Linked DNA regions of Homo sapiens: region 1 is linked to region 2. The links come from fine-mapping of genetic effects on gene expression. A gene starts in region 2. The other region holds a variant in brackets. All regions are shown on one strand. Distances are between the middles of the regions.

Region 1 (5,379 bases), 54 kb before region 2:
CCCCATGAAATGGTTTCAGGGGAGGTCACTGTGGTTATATCCCAGAAGATTTGCCCTGCAAGTGAAACAGAAGCTTCTCATGGAGATGTGGAGGGGGCTGCCCCGCTGTGTCAGAAAGTGGAGACTCTATGGAACCAACCCCATTATACTGAGATAGGGTTGAGGCTGCTGATGGGTCTTTACCTATTGTAGCTTCCATTTGTATGGTAGGCAGCCGCTAAGATGGCCCCAGATATCACTGCCTTGTGATAGTCCTGTCTTTGTGTAATCCACTCCCCATGAGTGTGGGCTGGATCTACTGGCTCTCTTCTGCTAAACAGATGATCGAAAAAGTGATGAAATGTCACTTCTAAAATTAGGTTACACAGAGAATGTGGTTTCTTTTTTGCTCACTCCCTCTTACTCAGGGAAACTAGCTACCTCTTTATGTACTGCCCTATGGAGAGGCACACATGTCAAGAAACTGAGGGAGTGCCTTCCAGTCAACAGCCAGCCAGGAACTAAGGTGCTCAGTACAGCAGCCTCCACAAAGGACTGAACAATGCCAACAGCTATTTGACTGTGCTTGGAAGATCTCCGTTTAGTTAACCCTTCAGATGAGACCGCAGCCCTGGCCAGCAAACAAATTGCAGCCTATGGAAAGACCTTAAGGCAGAAGCACCCAACTGAACCACCCGAGGGCTCTGACTTACAGAAACTGTGAGCAGTAAGTGCCTATTTTTTTAAACCACTATACTTTGGGGATGGTTTGTTACACAGTTATAGACTACTAATAGAGTTTGTTAAGTTAGTATTTTAGTCTGCTTTTTTAGCTGCAAGATAAAACTAACCCCTTCACATAAACAGTTAGATTGCAACTCTATAGGTTCCGTTTTAACTTTATAGTTAGCTACTAATGAATCTACACATAAATATTCAGATTCCCCTAACACAGAAGAGAGGCCTACTATGTGCAGCATTATGAAATGTGAATTTCTAGATATAAAGACTTTGTCTCATTCATCTCTATACCCCAAGGCCAAGACCAAACTTTATCACATCATAGCTATTTAATATTGATGGGTTGATTTAAACGATCTAATTACTGGATAGCTATTATGACCCACATTTTACTGATATAATAAGAGAAGTACCTAGAGTTTAAGTGATTCAGAGAAAGTCATGTGAGTGGAGTCAGGGCTTTTGCCCAAATTCTCAGGCTGCCATCTGTGTATCCCAGAACTTCCTTAGTGGGTAAAATAGCTCATTACTGACTAGAATGGCAATGTTTTCCTTCCATTGCAACATACTAGCTCAAAATAAGCAGGTGGCTTTTTTTAGAAAAACAGTGTTTCATTAAAGATTGTATTCCAAAAAGGCTTTGTTAACTCCTTTTTTCCCTTTAAGTATAGTGAAATGGCCTCTACCTTATTTTGAATGGATTTCTGGGATAAAGTTCTTCAGTGATAACATGTTTGAAGTAAGTAACAATTAAGTTATCTTAGTCCTCACTAATAATGTTCATAGAGCAATTGGTGTTTCTTTCTGAGTTAATAACAAACATTTGCAGCCAAACCATAGGACTCTGAAGATAAAGCAATTGGCAAGAAACGGTATGTTTAAATACCAGAAAATAGCCCATATCCAAACAGGTGTGCGATAAAACAGTATAAATAAACTGCTCTGTATGCAGTTTAGCCCAAGCAGAATTGTGTAGGAAACTTTCTTATTCTGGAAAAAATATAACCAAACCAGGCCTCTTGTATCCTCCTTAGACTGCACAGCTGGAAAAACAGTTCTTGTTCAAACAGCCGAAAGTAAAAGTTGTTTTAATTTTTTTTAATGGCCAGATAAACAAAACCTTGCTAGAGGAATGACTATACTTGTGCAAATATGGCCTTGAGCTAGAATCTTGTGAAAGACTCACCTCTTTTCAACCTTTAAGAAATATGCCTGCTTCTTTGAATTCGCGATGGTCACTTCATGTTGTGTTAGGATATTTTTTAAAAATGTTTCTGTTGGTACAGTTATCTTAACCACCTGGGTACTTGACTTGACTTACGGCATTAAGAGTATAGATGCCTAAAAGAAGTACTTGGTTTCTATTAAGATCTCCTAAGTGCACAGGAAACATGGTTTAGAGCTCAAAGAGGTTATAAAAACTGTCCATCTTTTCATGCCATTTCTTTCTGGCCAGGAACAAAGGTAAGACAAGAGGTTGGTCCATGCCAGAAAGTCTGAAAGTATGCGGGTTAAATGTTTCCAAGTGTGCTGTTTGGTGTTTGGGATCATTTGTTCTTTGCCAAGCTGTGTCTAAGGGGGGAAAAAGCAAAAACAATGGAGACGTAGCCTAAGGTTCCTGGAGATATCTGGCATTTGACATGCCTCAGTGGTGAGGAGCATTTATGGTCTAGTGAAAAGTAAGTGGTCCTCTGCATTCCACAATCCAAACCCTGGCTAAATCTCTGACCAGTAGGACAATTACCACTTCTGAGTCTCAGTTTTCCATCTCTAAAATGGTCTTCTATACACAGTTATGAAGACTACATGGAAATACATAACTTGTTAGAGGCAATAACACATGAAGATTACATGCAGTAATACACATGCAATAACATAAATAATCTTATGACGATTACATGCCCTGGAATGATTATCTATAGATACTGTGTGCAAAGTGAAATTATACCAAGTGCTATAGAAATAAAAATGGCTGAATAGAGGTCAATTGGTGTGGCAGTTAGGAGCATAGGTTCTGGGCCGGGCACAGTGGCTCATGCCTGTAATCCCAGAACTTTGGGAGGCCAGGGCAGAAGGATAGTTTGAGCTCAGGAGTTAAAGACCAGCCGGGACAACATGGCAAAATCCTGTCTCCACAAAAAAAAAAGAAAGAAAAGCTAGCCGGGCAGGGTGGTGCATGCCCACATTCCCAGCCACTTGGGAGGCTGAGGTGGGAGAATCACTTGAGCCCAGGAGGTCAAGGCGTAAGTGAGCTCTGGTAAGTGCATTAGGTTGGTGCAAAAGTAATTGCAGTTTCGGGCTCTAGTTTTAAGTGGCAGAGACCACAATTACTTTTGTGCCAACCTAATACCACTGAACTCCAGCCTGGGTGACAAAGTAAGACCATGTCTCAAAAAAAAAAAAAAAAATAGTGTAGATTCTAAGCTCAGGCTTGCTTGAAATTCTGGCTCATTTTCTTTGTATCTGAGTAGCCCTGGTGAGTCTGAATTTCCCTATCTGTAAAATGACAATAATAGCAGTACATTCTTTATTCTGTTTAAAATGAAGAGCTCAAGTGCTAGTGTGTACTCA[T/C]GTGCTTTCTTTGTGAGTTCAAGCACTCAAGACTTCAAATGGTATCTTCCAGAGCTTCTTCAGCTAGATTCTGTCCTCTTCCTCATTTGTCACTCTGCTGGCTGCTCCAGGTCGTTCCAATCTATAAATAACCATTTCAGAGCCAGACATCACTGACTAATATCTCAATCTCTAGGAACAAACATTTTGACTTGTGCCACACTCAGTGGTTCAGAATGATTGTAACCCAATTCTGACTATAACTAGAATGAGATGGAAATCCAGCATTCTACTTGGGAGCAGGATTTTCTCTAAGAAACTACAGCGGATCAGGATAAAAGTTCTCTTTTCTGTTATTCATAAAAGGCAGGGAAAGAGAGTCAGAGTTATGGCTTATGGTGTCGCAAGAATGTTCAGTATCATTTTAAGGATCTCTGTCTCGTTCTCTCTCTCTCTTGCTCTCGCTCTTGCTCTTGCTCTTGCTTTTTCTCTTCCCTTTCCCTCCCCGTGGCAAGTATTATAAATAGGCCTCCTTCTTATCTGATCCTCCCCTAAATGTTTTTCTTTTGAAAACCACAGTTAATTTTAGATAAATGTCGGAGATAATCTCAAATTTGTGTGTAATATAGGCCCTAGTTCTAAGAAAAACATGACATGTCTGGAAGACCTTGTTTTGGCCTTTGTTCCTCTGCTAGTACCACGGCCAATATCTCTGACTTCCCACCCTTTATCTGAGACTGGGTTGTATCTTAAGTCTCCTAACCCCCTTTTCCAGAAGCAGAGAAACTGCCACCTTCTGAATGGCTCCTTTCTAATCCAATAGTTCCCCAGGAATGATTTTAAAGCTAGAAAGGGGCTCCGGGGAGTGAGGGCTGAGTTCACCAACACTGCCCGCCTGAGCAATTTGCAGGATGAAGTGGCCTCTGTCCTCTGATTTTCACAGGCCAGGCCCCCTCTAGATCCATGTGTAGATAACTGCAGTCGTAAATGTTATGCGAAGGCTGCTGTACAAGCCTTTTAAATAAGAGGCTGTTTTTCAGAACCTGGGCCACATTTGTCCTGGCCTGAGTTAAGAGGTAAAGAACATTCCAATTGTGAGCTTGGATGGAAAAAAATATATTTGAAGTTTTTTCTGCTAACAAGGTATGCAGAGGACTCAAATTCCAGTAAACGAAGGTTAAAGACGGGCTGATTTGCAGAATACGGTCATCAACCCCACCCCTTAATTTTTCCATAAAGTGCCATAAAAAGCCACTGCACTAACAAACATTTTGGGAAGGAAACAAGCTCCAGGCCAAGAAGCCACAAGCTTAAATGGAGGGAAATCTGAGCCCTGAGGCACAGTTTCCTGAGCAGAGTCATTACTCAAGAAGGGATCAGGCATTAACAGAACTATCCCAACCCAGTACCAAAGCTAAGGCTTCCTGGGTGCCCTGGGACAGTGCTGGTCAGGAGAAAAGTGCCAGTGTCCCTCACTGGAGTTACACCCTTCACCTTGACTTACAATGTGAAATGAGAGCACATATCCAAGACTCAGCTTACACCTGAAAAACATCTGAAGAAAAACGTCTTGTTTTATTTAAAGGATGAAAAGAAAACGCGATGCAATGAAATTGCAAAAAAAAAAAAAACTCCAGCTGGATGTATTTTTTAAAATTTTTTGTTGTGGAACACAGAAAAATTAATGCTAAAATGGATACAGAAGAGTAAAGTCCCCCCAGAGAGCTAGGCCAACTGTGAAGAAGAGGAATATGGAGGAGGGGCTTATCCTACAAAATGTTAACCTTCTACAAAACCATCATCGTAAAATTGGTCTGCTTCTGGCTTGAGAACAGAGACCAGTGAACAGAACAGAGGCCTAGGAGACAGGCCTTTTTATAAATGAGGACTTGAAATATGTTTAACATGGCTTAAAAATCATGGGGAATGGTTAGATTATTTAGTAGATGGTATTGAGAAATTGGCTCACCATATGGAGAACAAAAACATCTATATTTCTTTTTTTTTTTGAGACGGAGTCTCGCTCTGTTGCCCAGGCTGGAGTGCAGTGCCACAATCTCGGTTCACTGCAAGCTCCGCCTCCTGGGTTCACACCATTCTCCTGCCTCA
Region 2 (5,379 bases):
ACCAGTCTCCATAAAAAGTAATTTCCCATCCATGGAAAGTGGATTGGCCTGAACAGGCTCTGTTAACTGTTCTCAGGGCAGATGCGAAGCCCAGCAGAGGGCACTTGCCTGTGCTAGCTCTACTTCTATCTACTCTCATCTCCAACTTCTACCCTCTGTCTATCTATGAGACCTCACAGGTCTGTTCCTCTATGAAGCCTGTCTTGATTGCTCTAATTGGGTTTAAGTCCCTTTAGCGTATGTTGTCACTGTGTCATGAACATACATCTTTGTAGTAGTGTTAAGCTGGGGTTTGTGAAAGTTTGGGTATTATTTCTCCCACTTGACTGTAAGCCCTGTCTGTGTTGGCTCCCTATATCCCAGCGTCTAGCAGAGAGGCAGAACACACTCCACAGGAATACTTGCAGAAGGGAGAAAGAATGCTTGTGAGGCTGTTGGCTGAAAAGAAAACTGAAAGCAGGAGAGACAAACCATTGTGTGGATAGGCGTCTCACTGCACCGGGCAAAGCCGGGCAAACAGAGGGAGTGGAGGGTTACAACAGGAGGGATTTAGGACAGTGTTCAGGAAGAAAGCTGCTTTGCAAACATCCTTTAAAATTCAGGGCTGCCTAAAGAGTTACAGTGCGATCCCAGGGAAAACAGCCAGCAATTATATCAGCCTCTGCAAACAGAATAATCTGCTTTGCTCCAATCCCGATTTTTATTTTCCATAGGTTTTAAAGAAAAGTTAGAAGATAAACTTTACGGCGAAAGATTATAGGCAGGGTTCTGGCTAGGCTTTTTAAGCTAGGGGGATTTAAGGAAAGGAGACAGTACTCTCTCTCTGAGACCAAGTGAGTCTCTGGGGATGGGTGGAGTCGAAAACCTCTCCCTTGCTGGGCGATACTGTCTTGTGTTGACGTTCAAAAATATCTCCTTTAAGTTATCAAAAGAACCATCTCTTAGGTGCTGTCTGTTAGGGTAGGAGGTGGGCATGCCTAGGTCTTCTCCTGCTGCGAAGGGAAGAAGGAAGCTAGCTGGGGCCTTTCTGCTGAGCCTTTTAGACAATAGCACAGTGAGTACAGACACGTTTCCCTTGACTGCCAGGCTCAGAGCAAGGGCGAGGGTGGCACACAGGCATCTGCTAAGCAGAAAAATGTCATGCCAGGGGCTTCTTCACCAGCCAACCCTGTTCCTAGCTGGCAGGCCACTTCCCAGGCAGTTTCCAAACAACAAAACAGAAGGGATTTCATTTCTCACTTCATTTTTTTTTTTTTGGCTTCTGTATTCCCAGTCCCTACATTCTGAATAAACAACCTTTTGTTGTAAATGGATAACTTGTAAGCCATAGGCACTCAGGGAGAGCAAAGAAGCTAGCTAAGGTGTGGGGAGGGGGAGGAAGAATCTGTGCTCCAAGACTGGGCCTGCCTACTGTGTTGTTATGTGTCTGGGCTACATGTGTCTCCATGTCTCCGCGTCCTCACCTGGAAAGAGGGATAATTCTGCATGCCATATTGACAACCACAATGGTGAAGATGAATTAGAAGGAGGCACCTTGAAAAAAAGAAAAAAGGAAACTGTATAAGAAAAAAAGCCCCACACAGTTTTAAATATGCTCAACTTGATAATTCTTCATAAAATTAGAATCACAGTGACTTCCAGTATGCAGCTGAGTTCACGTGAAGTCTGCAGTCACTTGTTAGAGAAATGCTTTTACGGAATTGCTTCACCAAGCAGAGAACTGGCTCTGCTGTCTCACAGATGTGGGAAGTGACCAGCTTTGATCAGAGTAGCCTTGATCCAGTCACTTTCCTCTCTGAGTTGTGGTTCCCACATTAGTTGAGGGGAAGCTGCCGAGGTGGATGTGTGTTGCAGGATGAAGATAAGATGTTCCCCAAACACACAGAACATGGGTCTTTTCTACTCATTCCAGGATTATTGAGGAAGATCCACCTAAGATGCAAGTGTTAAATACAGTGATGGGGCAGGATGGGCCAAGGGTGATAAACATGCTCATTCTGAGAATTGGTAGTTATGCATAGGACTGCATAAGGCTGGCATAGCCCTGGCGATGTAGGTTCTACTGAGACCTATCCCCAGATGGGGGCCATAACCACATGGGCAGTTGTACAGCCATGCAACCACACCAGTAAGTGGATAGAACCAAGAGCTCCAAAGTTACACAGACAGTTTCCAGTCCTGCTTCTGCCTCCCCTGCTCAGTGCCTCTGTTTACCCATGGGCACACCAAGCTCTAAATAGGATTAAGCATGGCAACTACTCAACACAGTATCTGGTAGAAACCCCTCAGAAACGATAGTATTATTAACAATATTATTACTAACCCTAAGTACCTGGGGCTGCATATATCTCAGCTCTCTTTTCCTCCTGGGCAATTTCCATTTTCTAAACCGAGGTCCTGCTTTTTCAGCAAGGAAACTGTGCTAAATGCTCCCGCATCAGCGTGTGTGTGTGTGTCTCTCTCTAGGGGCTGGGGGCTCAAGTGTTGAAGTTGGTTCAGCGTGTGTGTGTGTTTGTGCACGTGTATGGGTGTGTGTAAGGGCTGGGGGCTCAAGCATTGGCGGTAGCTCAGCGTGTGTGCGTGTGTGCGTGTGTTCAAGGGCTGGGGGCTCAATTGTGAGAGGTGGCCCAGGGGCCGGTTAGAGACTGGGAAGGACGACAGAGGCAAGACACGCAGCGAGTGCTCTCGCGAGAGTTCACCGAGTTGATAAAATTATTAAAACACAAAATACACATTTGCGTGAGGGGGAAAAAATACCCGCTTGTCCGTCCTGTCCCTTCAGGCTGCGCAACGCTGGAGGGCGATGGGAGCTCCACACAGGTGGGACGAGCCTAGCAGGTAAACCTTCCACCGGCCCGAGCTCCGCGACGCCGCGCCCCCAGCCCCGCCCCGCCTTAAAAAAAAAAAAAAAAAAGAAGAAGAGAAAGAGCCGCCGGGAGAAGCGCGGACGCCGCCGCTTCCCGGGCTCCAGCCGCGGCCCAGAAGAGGAGGAGCCCAGACGCCCTTCGCGCGCCATTGGTCCATCCGCCTAGCAACAGCCGCGGCCGGACCAATGGGAGCCGCGAAGCGGCCGGCCCCGCTCCAGAAACTTGGCTGCGGAGAAGTTCGCTGTCCCAGCCAGGAAAACAAACCAAGAGACCCTTCACACCCCAGCCCTAAGTTTTCTTTCTTACCCTGCCTACCCTCCCCCTTTCCCTTTGCAACTTGTCACCATTCCCAGCTCATGCATGCTTTAGTCGCCAAATTCTGACGCGGACGGAGGGCCTTTTCAGAAGGTCATCTCTTCCCACCCAAAGGAGAAGTCTCATTAGAGGCAAAAGAACGGACAGGTTGAAAACGATTTGTCAGGTTTCCGAATCTCTCTTGGTCTTCAATTACAATAGCCTCACTTTTAATATATAGTGTGTTTTTGTTTGAACTGATCTGCAAGATCTGTGCCCAAAATGAAGGGCAATTTGGAACATTTATTATGTACCGGGCTTTGACCTCGAATTTTGTTTGCTTTCTATGCCTTATTGCATTTAATCCTCTAATTAATTGTAATTCGGAGAGTGGGTTGCCCTGTCTCCATTTAATAGATGGGAAATTGAAGTTCAAAATGGTGAGTGGAAGTGTCAGAGAAATTCTGTTAGTACATGGTTACACAGGATTCAAACCCAAGCCAGTCTGATTCCCAAGACACTCTGGTTTCATGATGCCAGGAACCTCTGCAAGCACTTTTCAGAAATGGCCATAAAGAAATTCTCTGACCTACCTTGTGGGTTGTAGGTCCTGCCCCATACTGGAGAGGAAGACGTGCTACATAGAGAAGCTAAGAAAAATTTGAACAGACAGGCCGTGCTGGGTTTTCTGCCTCAGTCTCTTGCTATTAGATCAGACTCTTCTTTGTCTAACCCTATTTCTACCTGGCTATCCATGCTTCATCAAACTTAAGCCCGGGTAAAAACAGATACCCGGGGTATCTATTTTTATCTGGGACTTGCGGTCTTCATTTTGAGGGCTCCCATGTCACATAAAACTATGATTGAATAGCTTTGTTATGGCTTTTCTCCTGTTAATTTCTTGTCAATTCATTCAGCAGACTTAGATTAGAGCCTTCAGAGGGAAAGTTTGAACTTTCCTAAAGAAATGGTGTATATTGCAAAAATCGAATCCAGACTCTCTCTATGTGTTATCCTCAAACCCCAGCTTGCTTTGTGGGTGTGTGACCAGCCCAAATGCACAGATTCTGTACTTAGAAGGTCTTACACTTGGTTTACTGCTCTGCTGTTGCTGTTTTGAAGTTATTAATACGATTTGAAGAAGAGGTCCCGTGTTTTCATTTTGCACTGGGTCTGCAAATTATGTAGCCGCCCCTATGAATACAGCTTATTTAAATGTCCCAGAGGAATCTCACGTTTTGAGAATGTCGAACCTCAAGGGAAGGAGGAAGGTTGTAAGCTTGCCACCCCAACCCACATCACACACACACTTAGACTTCTGCACACACCCTACAGATAGTTTTATGACACTATAACTGTAATTTGAATCTCCAGTCTATTAAATGGGAGTGTATATATTTATGGCTGTGTTTATGTGTGTGTGTGCATGCACACGTGCCTGTGAGAACTCAGAGAGGGAATAGAGGTTTGGGGCATTTACAACACACAGATACAGTCCTGATTATTGACTCTATCCTTTCACTTTGGAGACATTACAGGGGATTTGGACAGGCCCTGCTTTTATGAAATACACTCTTAGGAGGTTTTCGAGTGCCTGTAAACACTGGACTGTGAGTGAGGTTGGTGTGATGCCGGCTATCCCTGGAGGGAACAAACCTTGAATACACTTCCACTGGGCCTGGCAGAAAAGCCACATGTTCTTCCATCTGTGTTACCCTGAAATCTGAATCTTCTTTTCTAGTAAAGATTGGCCTAGTTTTTATTCTCTGGATTATGTTGATCTAATTCTCTTAGTTAAGAGATGAAATGATCAGTAAATCACCAATGGCGTGAAAGTCTGAAATAAATGAGAAGAAAGCCTGAGTGTTTCCCTGACACTTAGTTTACCAACAAAGATAATCACACTCTGTGGCAGTTGTAAGGGACTCTGACATGGCTTTGAAACCATCTCCAAATTTTGGAGCACTTTATTTGGTGTTGAGGGAAACTGAGGCCCTGAGAAATAGGCTAAGTTACTACAGGTTACACAGCTAGGTGGTAGTGATATGTAGGTTAGAATCCACTTTGCCCGACTTCTGACCCAGGGCTCTTTCTTGCTTTTCTGTACGAACAGAAAAATACCATAAAACATTATGTAATCAGTTCCTGTGAAGAGAGGTTATTGACTTAATAAATAACCATATGGGGTCACGAGGGAAGGTTACCAGTATGTATTAGT

What was found.
Region 1: its variant is fine-mapped to the expression of MAFTRR in testis (GTEx, PIP above 0.99). The same link has a PIP of 0.9 or more in breast, sun-exposed skin, tibial artery, transverse colon and unexposed skin.

The regions. Positions count from the first base shown.
Region 1 is chr16:79,713,429-79,718,807 of GRCh38, forward strand. LOC105371356 (a long non-coding RNA gene) reads left to right here. Exons shown (of 5, transcript XR_001752268.2): 3 at 408-706; 4 at 1,387-1,459. Among named protein-coding and RNA genes, the nearest start is that of LINC01229, 54 kb to the right of the region's middle. RefSeq lists an enhancer at 206-335. The variant T/C (reference allele first, on the strand shown) is at 3,292.
Region 2 is chr16:79,767,690-79,773,068 of GRCh38, forward strand. MAFTRR (MAF transcriptional regulator RNA) reads right to left here and starts at 2,843. Exons shown (of 6, transcript NR_104663.1): 1 at 2,758-2,843; 2 at 1,464-1,533. LINC01229 (long intergenic non-protein coding RNA 1229) reads left to right here and starts at 2,782. Exons shown (of 4, transcript NR_104660.1): 1 at 2,782-2,838. RefSeq lists an enhancer at 2,883-2,932 and silencers at 2,930-3,128, 3,053-3,102.